Homo sapiens: one gene and its partners. The protein of the gene in region 2 purifies or fractionates together with the protein of the main gene of each other region. This does not show direct contact. Each region holds a gene or a part of one and is shown on either strand. Other genes may lie near its edges. The genes, in order: MUC7, ZNF491 and BPIFA2.

Region 1 (7,122 bases), on a different chromosome or scaffold from region 2:
AGGATTAGATGGTTCAGGTGGGATTTTGATGGGGGTACAAGGTAGTGGTTTTGTAGTTTCTAACATTCAGGGAAAAGTAAATGGTTGATGGCCCATACAATATTCTCTCTTTATCTAAGGACTTTCTTTGCCCTCAGTAGGCTATCTCTGTAGGATCCAAAGAGTTATTTTGAACCCCAGACCTGCATCTGGCTTGTGGGATAGAGGCATTTTGTCTTGTTAATAGGTCTTGTGGTGGTGAATAATTAGATTGAAAGATTAATGATAGTGCTTTAAATCTGAGTAATATAATTTCATGTTGGGATTGGTGCTAAAAGAAAGGTGGTAGTTCTGCACTCATGAATCACATCTTGTAAATGACAGAACACTTTACAACATACAATATACTATTGCTCCACCATGTCGTCAATAATTCTGTTTAGTAGATTCTTCATATATAAAAGAAATCGAGAAATTTTATTTTGGCCAGGAGCTGAAGTTGGTTGTTTAGTAGTAGTAGTTTGAGTAGTGACCGAAGTAGTAGTCTGGTGTGTGGGTGCAGCTGAAGTTTCAGAAGTGTCAGGTGCAAGAGTAGTTGGGGAAGAATTAGGTGTGGTAATTGGGGCAGCTGTGGTCTCTTGTGGAGCTGGGGAAGACGGTGGAGCTGGTGTAGTTGCAGAAGGTGTGGGTGGGGCAGCTGTGGTCTCTGGTGGAGCTGAGGCGGATGATGGGTCTAGGGTAGTTGCAGAAGGTGTGGGTGGGACAGCTGTGGTCTCTGGTGGAGCTGAGGAAGATAGTGGAGCTGGTGTAGTTGCAGAAGGTGTGGGTGGGGCAGCTGTGGTCTCTGGTGGAGCTGAGGAAGATGGTGGAGCTGGTGTAGTTGCAGGAGGTGTGGGTGGGGCAGCTGTGGTCTCTGGTGGAGCTGAGGAAGATGGTGGAGCTTGTGTAGTTGCAGAAGGTGTGGGTGGGGCAGCTGTGGTCTCTGGTGGAGCTGAGGAAGATGGTGGAGCTGGTGTAGTTGCAGAAGGTGTGGGTGGGGCAGCTGTGGTGTCTTGTGGAGCTGGGGAATTCACTGGTGCTAATGTAGCTACAGAAGAGCTTGTGTTAACATTTTCTCTTGAAGATATGGTGGTGGCATTCTGGGGAAGAAAAGTCACATTTGGAAGGGTAGTAATTTTGGTGGAAGCTGATGGGAAAGTCACAGATGGAATTTGGGTTGTAGCCACTAAGGTAGGGTTGACCACACTGCTATTTTTATCTGGATGTTTAGGTGGCTGGTGAGGATTTGGGAATTTGGGGGGGTTATTAGGTGAAGGTGGAAGCTTAGGCCTACAGCGTTTGTGCAGACATTTATAGGACTTTCTAATGAACGGCTTCTGGTGAGCTAGCAGTCCAGGATAATGTGGTAATTCAAAGTGAGATTTGGGTGATTGGTGATGATGCCTTCTGTGACGTAGTTCATGATCCCTTTCTCGACCTTCACTGAACTGCAGAAAAGAAAGAAAATGTAAGAAATGAAAAAAGTATCCATTTATCAATCAGGTGATCACTGCTGACCATGAGATGAGCGGTATTTGTGGAATGCTGGGATTAGAAACCAGAGTACATTATTGAGTCAAGTGATTATCTTCCTAATTTCACCAAGTTTCAAGAAAGAATTGCTACTAGAGAGTTTTCTTTTGTCAAATGTCTACTCTCTAGATAGCTGGGATGAATATATTCCTGTGGGTTCTAGCTTGAATGCTTAGCTGGATACGAACTTTTGTGCTTACAGTTCCTCTCTTCTTCCTCTGGTGGAAAATGGTCAAGTTACTGCCTGAGGTCCCATCACAAAAGCTTCCTGCTTGCTCAGCCTGTTCACAAAACTTTAGTCAAAGACATTCAACTGAGATCCAGGAGCCCTTTCTAGATTACACCCCTCATATCTACCATCATCAAAATACGAAACAGCCAAACAACAACAAAGCCCCAACAAACAAAATATCCCACCCCGGCTTCATGTTCTCCATATTTCAGGAAACAGTTTTTAGCCTTTATAAATTGGAGAAACAACTTTGGTCATTACCTTTTAACTTTATTGTTTAAAAAATTAGAATTATAGAATTCATGATTCGGGGGTTCATGAGTCATCTGATTTTTAGAGAAAATTTGCATGTTTATGCATTTTGTCTGGATAGAGCACCAATGGTTTTCATGATTTCTGAAAGGTGTTTACATCTGAAAAGAACACTGATCCAGTCCAACTGTACATCTGATACTTGATCTTTTATCAATACACCTGCTGAAAGGCTTTCTAGTCTATGCATCTAACCTCTTCTGATTAGGAACTCACTACTGTAATTCCTAAGGCCGCCTGGTAGAGAGTTCTTGACACTGAATGTAGGTTTGTTTTTTGGGATTTTCATTCTTAACTGAGTAGAATTTTCTTCATGAAGATTTCCATCCTTTGGTCCTAATTTTGTTTTGGCAGATTTACAGAAGATCCAGAAGTCTTTCAAAATTTGAAAATAACTTCTATGCCATGTGGGTCATCATTTTGCAAGATATTTTTATTTCCTTTAGCCATTGCTGACATTATTTGAGTTAGAGTACCATCACTGTTTCAGTTTCTTATCTGTAAACATACTTCATGCCTTTTATATCCCTCTTCCCTGTATTCAATCTCATACTACATTTTTTAGTGATCAGTTATATTAAATTGGAGAAAAGAAATATAACAGGATAAATGAGAACATCCCAAACAAGGATAGGTTACGTTTTCTTCCTAATGATGTTCACAGAAGCCCTTTTTAGATGACCAAATGGGTAAATCATTCCAGTCGCAAGTTATAAAGCTTTCTTTGGACACAAAGTTTAGTGCAGATGAAGTGACAACTTCTGAGAGACTAGCTGAGTTGTTTAACTAAGATAACTTCCTCAGAGACTAATATATCCAACCTCAAAAATAGCTTCTAGGTACTGGGCTTTCAGAGGTGAATGAAACAGGGACCATCGTGAGGCTCATGTGATTGAGGGAATGAACCACATAACTATTTCAAAGCAAAGAGGTCATAGAATTAGATTTTGGATCTGGAATTTAATTTAATCCGAATCATTTCATAAATGAATAAACTGAGATCCAGGCATATTAAGTGACTTGCCCAAAGTCATTCAATTATTCAATGCCAGACATAGGACAGACTAAAACCTCCACTGCTGGTCTGTTGCAGTGTGTTTCAAATATGTTCCTCTAAGATCTGGACATTCTCCACAACATCCATCAATACAAGAAAGTATTATTTGTTTAGAAAATTAAATTGTCCAGGAAATTTTAATTCACAACTGAGAACAACCAATAGCTAACATAATGGCTTCTGATACTCACATGACTTTGGTATTTTTCCATAAATCTCTCTTAAAAGGGCATAGGTTTTCAGAATCGGTAACACTGACTCCAGGAATCTCTGAGGAGATCCTTTCCATTACAGGGGTAGTTGTTTTCTCATATAAAATAGAACAGGTCATATTGTTCAAACAGATCTTTCCCTGGAGATTGAATATGCAATCCACATAATTAAGGACCTGCTCTGACTGAAGCAGGATTGAGGGCCTCACATTCCATGATCTCGGTCTTTCCCTTTCCAGATGGTCTCTGAGGATGTTGCAAAGAATGTCCAGATCTTATAGGAACATGTATGAAACATGCTGCAACAGACCAGCAGTGGAGGTTTGGCTCTGTCCTGTGTCTGCCACTGAATAGCTGAGTGACTTTGGTCAAGTCACTTAATGTGCCTGGATGTCGGCTTATTCATTTATAAAATGATTTGGATTAAATTAAATTCCAGATCCAAAGTCTAATTTTATTTGCTTTGAAATAGTTATGTGGTTCATTCCCTTAATCACATGAGCCTCACGAAGGCCCCTCTTTGATTCACCTCTGTAAGTCCAATACCTAAAACTATGCCTGGCATATGGCAGGTACTCATTAGCTATTAATTGAATGAGTAAATGCATGGAAATGATAACAATAACTAATTTGTTATTGAATAAAGTATTAACATTTAAAAGTGTTTATTCATATGTAAAATAGTTTCAGCTATTTTACTTTAGGTGACCAAAATAATACCTACCACATTTTTATATGAAGGCAAATTGATTAAAATCCTATTAATTTTAATGTTAGCTTGGCCTGGAACATGTATCAAATGACCAGTTTGTTTGATTTACTTAATATATTGATTAGTTATTATGATTGGCAGTTACAGGTGGTTATAACAGAAATTGTAGACTAGAGTTGGATTTAGAGAAGTCTGAGAGAGGAAGGAGTTGAAAATGCATGCCTCTAAAGTTTGAGTTTAGGTGACTGAAGTATGGAGGTCCTTATAATAAATATAGATATGCCAGGGAGGGTGTATTAAAGATAGCAACCCTGCCTGCCTGTTCACATTCATTATTTATTTTTATTAAAAAAGTCTTCATGTAACACTTTATGTTAGGCCCTATTCTGAGTGGTTTACAAATACAAATTTATTTAATTTCTTAGTAATATCATAAGGTGGGTACGGTTATTATCTTCATTATATGGATGGGAAAACTGAGTCTCAGACTAAGTAACTTTTAGGAGAATGTTTCTCCATTTGCAAACTGTACTTTTGAGAGCAGAGAAGAGGGAGAAGACATGAGGAACAAGGATAGAGTAGGCTGGAGTCAAGGGAAGGAGAAGGAGAGACACATGGCACTTGCAGCAAGAAAGGAGGGTATGAGAAAGCAGAAGACTCCTAAAATAACTAGAGGAATGCCAAATTCTCTGAGGAAGGAAGAGGAGGAGAAAATTAGTCAGAAAGGGAGAGAATTAGAAGACAGAAAGGCCAAGATTACATTTTTTACTTTTGTATTTTGAGACAGAGTCTCACTCTGTCACCCAGTTGGAGTGCAGTGGCATGATCTCAGCTCACTGCAACCTACGTCTCCTGGGTTCAAGGGATTCTCCTGCCTCAGCCTCCCTAGAAGCTGGAATTACAGGTGTGTACTGCATGCCTGGCTAATTTTTGTATTCTTAGTAGAGATGGGGGTTTCACCATGTTGGCCAGGCTGGTCTTGAACTCCTGACCTCAGGTGATCTTCCCGCCGCGGCCTCTGAAAGTGCTGGAATTACAGGTGTGAGCCACGGCACCCGGCCCAAGATTACATTTAATTGAAATTAGAAAGCACAATTCATTTCTTCATTTGCTACCAGCTTATTTTTATGACCATTTGAAAATCTGTGATCCTTTTTTAAAGAGAATGAAAGCATTATGCTAAATAATGCTATAGTTGACAGAGCTCTTCATCTGACTCCAGAATACATCCCTTCAAGTCTTTCTTTGGGACATCTGGAAGAGAGAAGCCAGACTATCTGCTCCCTGAAATCACTCCACAAAAGCAGGTTGTTGCTAGAGCTCCAGGACTGACCTTTTCTGGCTGTGGGTTAATGCTAATCTCCGGTACATTCCTGTATTTTCTTTTCTTTTTATTTTTTTTGAGACGGAGTCTCGCTCTGTCACCCAGGCTGAAGTGCAGTGGCACGATCTTGGCTCACTGCAACCTCTGCCTCCCAAGTTCAAGTGATTCTCCTCCATCAGCCTCCCAAGTAGCTGCAATTACAGGTGTGGGCCACCACGCCCAGCTAATTTTTGTATTTTTAGTAGAGACGATGTTTCACCATGTTGGCCAGGCTGGTCTCGAACTCCTGACCTCACATTCCTGTATTTTCTAAGGATCAGGTCAAGGTATTTCTGTGCTACCTTCTCATATTCAAGTTCTTTGGAAACTCTTTCTCTCACCAGGCACTTTTTTGAGATTTGGGCAGCTTGAAGAGTTTTATTTATTCTAAGCACTTGGAAGAAAGGATTCTTTAGGTGTCTGGATTTGAGGGAGTTATGATGAAAGGCCACTTCAAAAGAACAACCCAGATTCATCATTTCACAATAACATGACTTGTGTTGATTGGAAAATTATTTCTTTCAATATAGAGGTGTTGGTAGCCAGGGATTCCTTATTAAAACTTTACTTATTAAAAAGTTAACATCACTGTGCATATTCAGAACTTAAAGCCTTATCAACTAGTATGTAAATTGAGATTACAATAATCTTGTCATAATTTTTATATCTACACTATAGTTTATAATTTATAAATTCTCATTTACCCTTCAGCAGCCCTGTGAAGCATATAGTGTTGTTATTATTTTACACATAGGGAAATTGGGGCCCTATAAATAGATTCTAAATTGCTCAAGATTCATCTGGATGGTAAACATTAGAGATGAGTTTAAGCCCACATCTTCTGAGCCCAGCTTGAACACTCTTCTAGTCACAGAAATCAGCATTAGGGTCCGGGAAAAAGCCTGATTGTTTTCTGGGGGATATTATAAGGTAAGTGAGAAATATGAGAATATCCAAGAGTAAATTCCGTCCACTTCATCAGTTCTTCTGCCCTCTCTCTCTCTACTCTACTGGCGTAATATTCTGAGGCTATCCATCCTCATTCAATAAAAAAGTACATTCCACTTCTTGATTCTTATTTGAAATTTTGTCAAAATAAAATTTAATAAATACTTGCAGGTACATAGCATGAGAGAAAAATATGGTTATTATTACAGCATGTATCACCTTGTAATCACATTATATCATTATTAATTTTAATCTTCCTTTGCCAGTACACCCTAAATTTCTTAAAGATAGAAGGTCCACTTTGTAGTCTTCTCTTGGTTTTGGAAGCCATCCTTTCCTGTCCCCTCTTGTGGGTCCTCCATTTTCTCTATCCATATCTAAACTTCCTACATTTTCTCCCTAGGTGAAAATGTTGTAAGGTTTCATGGCTTCAAGTATGTTTTAAATATAGACTTTACCCCTAGATTTCTTTCTGAACTCCAGACAACATATATCCACTGTTTTCTTGATATCTTGATGTGGAAGTCTAATAGCCATTTCAAATGTAACATGCCCCAAACTAGAACGTTTTTGTTCATTTCTTTCTTTTTTTTTCTTTTGAGACAAAATCTTGCTCTGTCACCCAGGCTGTAGTGCAGTGATGCAATCTCGGCTCACTGCAAACTCTGCCTCCCAGGTTCGAGCAATTCTCCTGTCTCAGCCTCCTGAGTAGCTGGGATTACAGGTGCCCACCAC
Region 2 (7,965 bases):
TAAAATATGGGCAATGGCGCGATCTTGGTTCACTGCAACCTCCGCCTCCCAGGTTCAAGCAATTCTCCTGCCTCAGCCTCCTGAGTAGCTGGGACTATAGGCATGCACCACCATGCCCAGCTAATTTTTGTATTTTTAGTAAAGACAGGGTTTCACTATGTTGGCCAGGCTGGTCTTGAACTCCTGACCTCATGATCCACCCGCCTCAGCCTCCCAAAGTGCTGAGATTATAGGCATGAGCCACCACATCCAGCCAAGCAATGGATTTTAATGACATTTCTCCCAGACATACACAAATGGCCAACAAACACATGAAAAGATGATCAATGTCAAGAATCAGCCATGGAGTTTTACCCAATGTCATTTTGGGTAGTTACTGAATAGTTTCCTCTCATAAAAAATATTCATAAACAAAATATAATTTTTTTCTTTTTAAAATTTTATTTATTTATTTAATAGAGACGGGGTCTCTCTATGTTGCTGAGCTGGTCTTAAACTTCTGGACTCAAGTGATCCTCCCACCTCGGCCTGCCAAAGTGCTGGGATTACAGGTGTAAGCCAGCATGCCAAGCCCTAAAGTTTTTGTTTTTTTGAGGAAAATTTTCACCCTGTCTCCCAGGCTGGAGTGCAGTGGTGCCCTCAAGGCTCACTGCAGCCTTGGATCTTCGGGGCTCAAGCGATCCTCCCGCCTTAGTCTCCCGAGTATAGTAGCTGAGACTACAGGAATATGACACCATGCCCAGCTATTTTGTTTGGTTGTTTTCAGTAGAGATGAGATCTTGCTATGTTGCCCTGCCCACTCTGGTCTTGAACTCCTAGGCTCAAGCAATCCTCCCACCTGGGCCTCTGAAAGTGCTGGGATTACAGGAGTGAGTCACTGTGCCTGGACTAAAATTTTTAAAAAATGTTTTCTTTCCCGTGTCTCTACTAAAAATACAAAAATCTGCCGGGCATGTCGGCACATGCCTGTAATCCCAGCTACTTGGGAGGCTGAGGCAGGGGAATCGCTTGAACCCAGGAGGCCGAGGTTGCAGTGAGCCAAGATAGCACCATTGCACTCCAGCCTGGGCAACAGACACAGTGAGACTGTCTCAAAAAAAAAAAAAAAAAAAAAGTTTTCCTTATTTTCAGAGGTGTTGATAACATTTTTAAATAGTGCTATTCATTTGTCTGTGGAAAAATGATAAAATATGGCAGCTGTTTCAAATGTAGCATGGGAAACACATAATTGATAAGGATGTCAATTGGCGAGGGGAAGTTGGTGTTTTTGAATGTGAGGAGAAAACCAGAAATTTAGGGATTTACTGTCATACCTGGGAAGAACTAGGCTGGGAGAGGGGTCCCAAAAACTCCCTCTTTGATCAAACTAGTCAGGCTCCTCAGAGCCCCCCTCTTCTTGAGTAGACTTTGGCCTTTTCCTGCAGAGCCCTGTGGTAGCAAAAACCCTTCTAAGGGAGTTTAGAGAAAATTCCCCCAAACCTGATATCCAATCAAGTCCCTTTTCCCTACGTTTGACAATCTCTTCCCTAATTCTTGACACTAAACCAACTTCCATCCTCTCCCTCACCTTGCCTATTAGCTGTAAATTCAATACTGTCGTTGATGCAGCCTTCACCTCCTGGGCTCAAGCAATTCTCCTGCCTCAGCCTCCAGACTAACTACAGAAGCGGCCATCATACCTGACTAATTTTTTTTTTTTTTAACAGAGTCTCGCTCTGTCGCCAGGCTGGAGTGCAGTGGCACCATCTCGGCTCACGCAACCTCCGCCTCCTGCGTTCAAGCGATTGTCTTGCCTCAGCCTCCCGAGTAGCCGGATTACAGGCACGTGCCACCACGCCCAGCTAATTTTTGTATTTTTGGTAGAGTCGGGGTTTCACCATGTTGGCCAGGATGGTCTCGAATTCCTGACCTCGTCATCCGCCCGCCTCGGCCTCCCAAAGTGCTGGGATTGTAGACGTGAGCCACCGCGCCCGGCCATACCCGACTAATTTTTTAAAATATTTTGTACAGACGGGGTCTCGCCATGTTGTCCACGCTGGCATCACCTTGCCTTACGCTGGAATGTTAAATATACTCTTTTAAATTGGAAAGGAAATGAAACCCAAATGTAAAGAAAAAAAAAAAAAAGCTCTATGGGGGCGGGGGGAGGGGGGCGGGCCAAACTCTGATTAAATTGTTGTGCCTCACAAACTAGCCTTGTATAAAAAACGTTGTAATCCTGTTAAATTTCTTGCCTATATAAGCAAGAACTTAAACTTTTAAATTTGAAACACTGAGCCCATTTCCGTGGATCCTGTGTTTTCCCAAATGGGCCATTCCCAGCTTCTTGCTTGAGTAAACTTTAAAAAACTGGAATCTGATTCTTTTATTTCAGGTTGACAAGTCCACATACGGCGACAGCATCACTGTAACTAATCAAGTATTTAATCCTGTTTGCCTCCTCATGCAACTTATAAAAGCCTTTTCTTCAATCACAAGCCATGACCGGGTGTTTCTCACTCGGAATCGCTGTTGCTCCAACAAACTCTTTAACTGTTAACAGAGCCTCAGTTTAATTTTTAGCAGAAGAAAGGCGGGACACATCCGACCCCCCATGACCCTCCCGTGGCCCCCGCACAATCTGGGAAGACGCCGGGCTGCGGGCGCGGAGCTGCCCAGAGAGGACTCCGGGGCCGGGGCCGCAGTCGCCGCGTAGGGACGGGACAGGACGCCCGGGGTCCCAGCTGCGGGCCCAGCCCCACCTGGCGGCCGAGCGGACCGAGGGCCAAGCCACGCCATGGGGGACGCGGGTCCCAATCGCCGGGGTCGCCCGAGCGGAGGCCTGGGTCCCGCCACAGCAGGATCCTGTTGGTTCCACCCAGCCCCTCTTCCACGTATCTGGACGCTAGGCCGGGCACTTTACCATTTCCCTGCTTCTTGGTGTCCCGGCGTCCTCTTTATGACTCCGGAGCAGGTCACAGCGCAGGTGACAGCGTCACAGGAGCCGTGGCGGAGGCACCTGGGGCCTCTCGGAGCAGCAAGGACTGGATGCAGAACGCAACGGACCCCAGCAACAAAGGAGTGCAGAGACTCTGAGTGCGGCCTTCTGCTTCCCCGGATTGACAGTTGGCAGGGCCCCGTCCCAGGGCCCCTGATTGGATGGGGTTCCAGGCTCCGCCCCTCAGCCCTGAGTGACAGGGTAAGCCCTGGGTAACGGAGCCCTGCAGAGCCCGGCTGATTAATCCTAGCTACAGCCTTTCTAAGGCTAAGCTCACTCCCTGCGCCCTGGTCGTTGGCTATCTGCATTTCAGCCAAACTTGCTACTTATTGTTAGAAGGGGCACTGTTAGCTTCCTCGATCTTTCAGAAATGTGTGCTGGGAATTCCAGACTCGGTGTTCAATGGAGTCATTCCTTTGCCTCATAGCAGGAAGGAAATCCAGGCCAGGCCAGGCCAGGCAAGACTGCACCAGGAGGGAGAGGCAGGTGTCCTCTACAGGGCGGGAATTGGGGATGAGACTTCCTCACACTCCCCCCGTCCCACCCCTGAATATGGAACCGCTTCCTCCCCCTAGACTTCATTTTCACCAGCAGAAGTTCTCACCTGGGGTCAGTTTAAGCTTCTAACCTAAGTAAACTATTACCTTCACAAACCCTTTCTCCAGGTGACATGTCAGACAAATCTTACTGAGCCTGATCTTCACAGATTATCTTTGTATGTACAAATTACAGTCTGTCGCCGGGACCCTTTGCACGTAAAAACCAAACACTGCCCCCGCAAAACGTCCCTAGGCTCTAGGTACAGCCCCAGTAAGGACAGAACCTCCCCCCAACCCCCCTACACAAAGTGCACCTGCACGTGAGTCTCCTGCTTTCCAGGGCTCTGTAGCTTCTCAGGATCCACATTCCTTCCGCAGCTGTTCTGAGCAGCTGGAGGCCACCTGCAGTAGAGGGCAGGCTGCCCGGGAAACACCCAGGGGAGCTCCCTTTCCCTCCCTTTGCCGGCTCCAGACTGGCCTCAGCAGGGTGTCACTGGCCTTAGGCTCTGCTGCCCCCTACAGGTTATTCACTTCATTGATCGGTTACCTGAGACAAACACCCTCAGTTCCACTGTACGTATGTATAAAGTGGGGAAGGAAAATTCTAAGATAATTGAAGTGAATTAAAAGACTTGCAGGCAGGGTGCGGGGGCTCACGCCTATAATCCCAACCCTTTTGGAGGCTGAAGCGGGAGGACTGCTTGAACCCAGGAGTTCATCATCCTGGAAAACGGAGCCACACCTCGTCTGTACTAAAAATTTAAAAATTAGCAGTGCGTGGTGTCCTGAACCTGTAGTCCCAGCTACTCGGGAGGCTGAGGTGGGAAGATCTTGAGCCCAGGAGTTTGAAGCTTCAGTGACCTATGATCTCGCCACTGTGCTTCAGCAAGAGTTGTGATAGTTGTATCAGATAAAATAGACTTTAAATAAAAAACAGTACAAAAAGACAAAGAAGATCATGAGATACTGATAACAGAATCAATTCAGCAAGATAATATAGTAATACTAAATATATATGCATCCAACATTGGAGAGGCCAAATTAATAAAGCAAATATTTCTAGACCTAAAGAAAGATATAGATAGCAATACAATAATAGTATGGGACTTCAGCACCTCACACACAGTAGTAGATATATCATCAAGACAGACAATCAACAAAAAAATTGGACTTAAGTTGGACTTTGGACCAAATGGAGCTAACAGACGTTTACAGAACCCAACAACTGCAGAATATACATTCTTCTCATCAGTACGTGAAACATTCTCCAAGGTAGACCATATGTTAGGCCACAAAACTAGTCTCGACAAATTTTAAAGTCAAAATCATTTCAAGCATCTTCTCAGACTGCTGAATAAAACTAAAAATCAATACCAAGAGGAACTTTGAAAACTGTATAAATACATGGAAATTAAACAATGTGCTCCTGAATGATCTCTGAGTCAAAGAAGAAATAAAAACAGAAAATAAAAATTTTGTTTGAAATGAACAAAAATGGCAACACAACATATCAAAACCTCTGGGATATAGGAAAAGTCATGCTAAGAGGGAAGTTTATAGAATTATATGCCTCTGTCAAAAAAGTAACAAATTAACAACCTAACATGGTACCCCATGGAACTAGGAAAACAAGAACAAAACAAATCCAAAGTTGGCAGAAAAGAAATAACAAAGATCAGAGCAGAATTAAACAAAATCAAGACTAAAAAACAACACAAATGATAAACGAAACAAAAAGTTGGTTCTTTGAAAATATCAACAAAAGTAATAAACTGCTGGCTAGACTAACCAAGAAAAAAAAGAAGATTCAAATGAACAAAACCAGAATTGAAAAAGAAGACATTACACCAATACCACAGAAATACCATCAGAGACTACTATGAACAACTATATGCTCACAACCTAGAAAACCTATAGGTTTTTTTGAAACGTATAACCTCCCAGGATTGAACCAAGAAGAAACAGATATCCTGAATAGACCAATAATAAGTAGCAATATTGAATCAGCAATAAAAAAATTCCCAAAAATGAAAGCTCTGGGCCAGACAGATTTATACCAAAATTGTACCAAATAGGCCAGATGTGGTGGCTCATGCCTGTAATCATAGCACTGTGGAGCCTGAGACAGGAGGATTGCTTGAGGCCAGGAGTTTGAGACCACCCTGGCCAACATAACAAGATCCCATCTCTAAGTAAAAAAATAAAAATTTAAAAATCAACATTAAAAAAATTATACCAAACATACAAAAAGAACTATACTAATAATCCTGAAACTGTCCCTAAAAATCACAGACAAGGGAAATCTCCCTAACTCATTCTATGAGGCCAGTAACATCCTAATACCAAAAACAGACAAGGACACAACAACAAAACTACAGACCAATATCCCCGATGAACACGGATGTGAAAATCCCCAACAAAACACTAGCAAACTGAATCCAACCGCACATTAAAAAGATAATACAGCATGATAAAGTAGGTTTTATACCAGGAATGCAAAAATGGTCCAACACACACAAGTTAATATATGTAACACATCACAAAAACAGAATGAAGAATAAAAACCATATGATCATCTCAATAGATTTAGAAAACACACTTGATAAAATTCAGCATCCTTCATGATAAAAGCTCAAAAAACTAGGTACAGAATGAACATATCTCAAAATAATAAAAGCCACACATGATAAACACACAGCCAACATCATACTGAATGGGGAAATAGTTGAATGATAAAAACTAGAACAAGATTAAGGATGCCTACTTTCACCACTCTTATTCAACCCTAGTATAGGAAGTCTTGGCCAGAGCAATCAGGCAAGAGAAAGAAATAAAAGACATGCAAATTGGAAAAGAGGAAGTCAAATTATTCCTGTTCAGTGATATATAATCTTACATCTAGAAACGCTTAAGACTCCACCAAAAATCTCTTAGATTAGTTAAATTAATTCAGGAGTTTCAGGATACAAAGTCAGTGTACAAAAGTCAGCAGTGTTTCTATACAGCAACAACAATCTAGCTGAGAACCAAATCGAGAAAGCAATACCACTTACGAGAGCTACCAAATAACACCCCACCCCACATGGGAATATATTGCACCAAGGAGGTGAAAGGCCTCTACAAAAAGAAAAAATCTATAAAACACTGATTAAAGAATTACAGATGACACAAACAAATGGAAAAAACATTTCATGCTTATGGAAAGAACTAATATCAGAAGAATTAATTTCATTAATTATTCAGAAAGAATTAATATCATTAAAATGACTATACTTCCCAAAGCAATCTACAGAGTCAATGCAATTCTTATCAAAATACCAATGTTAGTTTTCACATAATTAGGAAAAACAATCCTAAAATTCATATAGAACCAAAAAAGTGCCCGAATAACCAAAGCAATCCTAAACAAAAAGAACAAAGTTGGAGGCAATGTTACAGGACAGGGGTCCCAATCCAGACCCCAAGAGAGGGTTTTCGAATTTCCTGCAAGAAAGAGTTCAAGGCAAGTCTGCAGTGCAAAGTAAAAGCAAGTTTATTAAGAAAGTAAAGTGGTGAAAGAACAGCTACTCCCCAGAAAGAGTTGGATGTTTCTGTAAGTAAGAGGAGGAACGCATCCACCCTAGGTACAATGATGCTTGTATATATGGGCAGATGTGCTCTGCTATAAGGGTCCATGATAAAGGATTAATTTTCTTAATTACTATATTTTGCAAGAATTGATATTATTATCTTTAAAGCAAAATTAGAAATGCCTTTGTTCTCCAGATATTGGGATATCTGGACACTACCAAGTCTGGGTCTTGGTAAACATTATTAATTTGTTCCTTTAACTGTAAACACCTAGAAGCGAGGTATGCCTAACTTTCTGGGAATGAAGCCCAGCAATTCCCAGCCTCACTTTCCTAGCCCTCAGAATGGAGTCGCTCTGGTTCGAATGCCTCTGACAGCAACACATTACCTAACTTCAAGTTATACTACAAGGCTATTGCAATCAAATCAGCATGTTACTGGTATAAAAATATACACAGAAATAAATGAAACAGAATAGAGAACCTAGAACAAAATCCACATATTTACATCCAACTGGTTTTTTACAAAGTCAACAAGAACATACATTGGGGTAAGGACACCCTTTTCAATAAACAGTGCTGGGAACACTGGATTGCCATACGGAGAAGAATGAAGCTGGACCCTGATCTCTCTCCATATACAAAAATCAATTCAAAATGTACTTAAATGTAAATCCCAAAACTATAAAAATACTAGAAGGAAATCTAAGGAATTCTCTTCTGGACATTGGTCTAGGCAAAAAATGCCGGATTAAGACCTCAAAAGCACAGGCAACAATAACAAAATAGACAAATGTGACTTAAGTAAATGGAAAAGCTTCTGCACAGCAAAATAAATAATCAATAAAGTGAACAAATAACCCGAAGAATGGGAGAAATT
Region 3 (3,876 bases), on a different chromosome or scaffold from region 2:
TACAGACTGAGAACTCTCAGCACCACCTGGAAAAGACATCTCTGCTCCAGTGGGACCCCTAGAGGGCAGCAGGGCTAACAGGGCAGGTGGAGATGGGGCCACAGGCCTCTGACCCTGCATCACTCTGTCTCATACTCCTGACTCCAGTCAGGCTAGGTGTCCCCTGATTCTCCAAGAATCCTCAGGGCCCCTGGAGAGGAATGGAGGAAAGTGCTGGGTGGGGCTGTCCCCAGAATGTGACTTTCCAGTTCCCATTGCCTGTCTGGCACAGAGTAGGTGTTCACTACATACCTGTTGAATGCATGAATGGATAGATCAGGGGTCTGCTATTGCCACAGATTGGCTGTGTGACTTGGGCTAGTTTGTTGCCCTCTCTGTCTCAGTGGCCCCCTTTATAGAACCAGGAGATGTGGCTGGATATTCCCACTGAGCCTTCTAGCTCTGGATCCAGGTCTCTCCCACCCTAGTTGCAGCCCCCAACCTCCCTCCCCAGTTCCCACCAACAAATCCCAAATGGAGGGAATGCAACAAGCCACACAGAAGGGTGCAGAAATGGGCCTTTATTGCCAGGGGCAGGACAACATGTGTAGAGGCTGCTGTTCTGACTGTGAGGAGAAGGGGTATCTGGGAAGGTCCTTCTGGTGGGACTCAGGCTTTCACGCTGGTTAGGTGGTGGCAGCAGCTTCCTGGAGGGAGATGCTATAAGGGGGTGGGGCAAGCCACTGGGAACCAATCTGGAATGAGACCAAGGGGGTTAGGACATTTGCTGCTAGGCTGCCCTTACACCCAGCTGTCAGTCATCCACTGGGCACTTGATGGGACCCAAGTTGACCTGGCTCCAGTGTCCCAGCTCTTTCCCACAATACCCCATGCGGTTTAAGTCCTGGGAAGAAGAAACTGGCACCTGTGGTTTGGGGTCTTTCATTAGCACCTGGCACTGACTCATCTTCATTCCCCTCACCCTCCTTCAGAACAATGGTAGATGTGAAAAGATTGATTGAGGCCACTACTGGAGCCAGGTTCAGGGCCCAATATGTGATCAGAATCATGGATATCCATTTGAGACCAAGGTTGGGGCTCATTCTGTGACCAAGACTAAGGCTCAGTCAATAACTGGCATCAAAGCTCAGTCTGTGACTAGGATCCAGGCTCAGTCTGGGGCCAGAATCAGAGTTCAGTGATTAAGGCTCAGTGTTCAGAGTGTGACCAGAATCAGGGCCTAGCCTGGGATGGGGGCCAGGGCTCAATCTATGACTGAGATGAAGGCACAGTCTTCTAACACAAAAATAAGGGAAGCCACGCTTGACTTTTACTTCACCATAGGCCCCTGTGCATTGGGGCACAGAGACTGGCTCCTCACCAGCATGCACCACAGTGGTCCTCCTCATTCGTCCTCTTCAGATGAGGGTTTGCAGCTGGGTTTTGTGCTGAGGATTATCTGAAGAAACAAAATCAATAGCAGGCCTTAGTCTCTGCCACTGGAATTGAATAGAGACCAGACTCCAAAAGATGCCGCTCTCCAGCCGGTAACCTGACAGTTGTGGGACCCCAGGGATGTTGCTCCACCTCTCTGAGCTTCAGTTTGTTCATCTGTAAAGTGGGTACAATGACAGTACCTTCCCCACAGGGTTGTTGCAAGGATCCAGTGAGATAGTGTGTACAGAGCACAAAGTGACTGCCTAAGGGACTGGACTTGTGGCTATTTCCTTTCTTCTTCTTCTTTTTTTTTTTCTTTTTTTGAGATTGCGGTCTCACTCTGTCACCCAGGCCGGAGTGCAGTGGCATGATGTCGGCTACCTGCGATGTCCGCCTCCTAGGCTCAAGCAATCCTCCCGCCTCAGCCTCCCGAGTAGCTGGGACTCCAGGTGGATGCCACCACGCCTGGCTAATTTTGTATTTTTTAGTAGAGATGGGGTTTCACCGTGTCACCCAGGCTGGTCTCAAACTCCTGAACTCAAGTGGTCTGCCCACCTCAGCCTCGCAAAGTGCTAGGATTACAAGTGTGAGCCACTGCGCCTGGCTGACTTGTGGCTATTTTCATAGAAGGGTCACCTCCAGGGTCTTGACAGCTTTACTTACTCCATTTCTCCCCAGCAACCCCAGCCATGCCTGTAGACCCAAAAGCCAAAGGGAGCCCCCGGGTGCCTGTGGAGGGGAAGCCATGGCTCCCAATTTGCTTAGGACAGTGGGTCCTTCTGCTTCTCCAGGGTCCCCTGACCAGAACTGCTTATGGGGTGGGCACAGAGCTCCATGCCTGCCTCAGAAGGTCCCCACTTCCCCATTGACTTACCGACGACCTGCTGAATGACATTCACATCCAGGGAGTGGATGAAGATGCGGATCAGTGGACATATCTGACAGCGGAGAAAGGAGGAAGAGGAGGGTCAGGAGTAGGAGGAAGAACAGATCATTCTTCTCAGCTGAGAACAAATTGCTTGCCACCCACAGATGAGCTCATTTCTAGGGATCTTAGAATCTTTGAACCTTAGGATTTTATTTTGTTTTATTGTATTTTTTTTTTTTTTTCTGAGACAGAATCTCACTGTCTTGCCCAGGCTGGAGTACAGTGGTACGATTTCTGCTCACTGCAACCTCCGCCTCCCAGATTCAAGTGATTCTCCTGCCTCAGCCTCTCAAGAAACTGGGTTCACAGGCACATGCCACCATGCCTGGCTAATTTTTGTATTTTCAGTAGAGACAGGGTTTCACCATGTTAGCCAGGCTGGTCTTGAACTCCTGACCTCAAGTGATCTGCCCACCTTGACCTTCAAAAGAGCTGGGATTACAGGCATAAGCCACCGCGCCTGGCCTGAACCTTAGGATTTTAGAACAATGGGATCCCAGCAGTCTTAAATCTGGAAACCCTAGGGTGTTAGAATCCTAACACCTTAGAACACTAGAATTCTAGGACCTCAAAAATCTACATTCTAGATTGTTAACATTCCCATGTTGAACTTTGGAACCCTGGAATTTTAAAGGGTCAAATGGTGCCCTGAGGCATTTGCCCTGAGGTTGTAGAGCGGAGTATCTCTTGCTCCTGTGTGTACACAGTTCCCCGCAGATTGCAATTCAGCAGGTCTGGGGTGTGGCCTGAGATTCCGCATTCCTATCAAGCACCCAGCTGAGGCTGAAGCTGGTGGAGGATCGCTTTTGGAATATAACTAAACTCCGGTTCAGTGGGTCACAGAGCCATCCGGAGGATTTTTCTTTTATAAACCCACATTCCTGGGTCTGCTTCCAGAATGACTGATTTAGAATCTCTGCAACTTTGGGCCTAGTAATCCTGCACATGGTACCTATGGTTTTGGATGATGCACAGATGGAAAAAAAATTAAAACTATTTTATAAGTCCATTGATTGTATGATATGTGATATTAATTTTCTATTTATGATAGGGATATAAAGTTTTATTTTTAAAAATAAATGCTTCTAAAGAAACATATTTAAGTAAAATTGTGTTGAAGATGTTAGCTACAAAAGCATATTGGTAGTGCGTGGATATGGTGAGAGGCTCAAGTTTGGGACCTGGCAATTTCAGCTAATGTCAGGCCTCTGCTCTACCCTGCTACCCACCAGGCTGATTAGTAGAGGAGGAAGCTCCAGCTGACCTCCTAAGGAGAAGCTTTCACCTCCGAAGGAAAAGTGCTCAGAGGATACAGCCAGGCCTGCAAATTCCCCCACCTGCCCCCACCAGGCCTGGATCTGGGCTCCAAGGAGTGGGAGACTCACCTCCTTCTGCAGCAGGGAGGATACAGTGCTTTTCAGCGTGTTGATCACGCTATTCACGAACTTGTTGATGATTTGGCTGTGTCTGGAAAACACAGGGAACTATTAAAGTCTGGTCAAGTGGGCAAGAGATGGGAGAACTGCCAAAAA

Evidence for each region.
Region 1: the proteins of ZNF491 (region 2) and MUC7 purify together in Homo sapiens (affinity purification with mass spectrometry; 2 studies listed by BioGRID and IntAct, with this or other methods). This does not show direct contact.
Region 3: the proteins of ZNF491 (region 2) and BPIFA2 purify together in Homo sapiens (affinity purification with mass spectrometry; 2 studies listed by BioGRID and IntAct, with this or other methods). This does not show direct contact.

What each region holds. Positions count from the first base shown.
Region 1 is NC_000004.12:70,475,143-70,482,264, reverse strand, and holds part of MUC7 (mucin-7 precursor), read right to left. Parts: intron 1,467-7,122; coding exon 387-1,466; 3' UTR 1-386. UniProt on the Homo sapiens protein: May function in a protective capacity by promoting the clearance of bacteria in the oral cavity and aiding in mastication, speech, and swallowing. Binds P.aeruginosa pili.
Region 2 is NC_000019.10:11,793,665-11,801,629, reverse strand, and holds the start of ZNF491 (zinc finger protein 491), read right to left. Parts: upstream 3,108-7,965; 5' UTR 2,903-3,107; intron 1-2,902. UniProt on the Homo sapiens protein: May be involved in transcriptional regulation.
Region 3 is NC_000020.11:33,178,082-33,181,957, reverse strand, and holds the end of BPIFA2 (BPI fold-containing family A member 2 precursor), read right to left. Parts: intron 3,812-3,876; coding exon 3,730-3,811; intron 2,355-3,729; coding exon 2,291-2,354; intron 1,439-2,290; coding exon 1,398-1,438; 3' UTR 1,361-1,397; intron 735-1,360; 3' UTR 546-734; downstream 1-545. UniProt on the Homo sapiens protein: Has strong antibacterial activity against P.aeruginosa.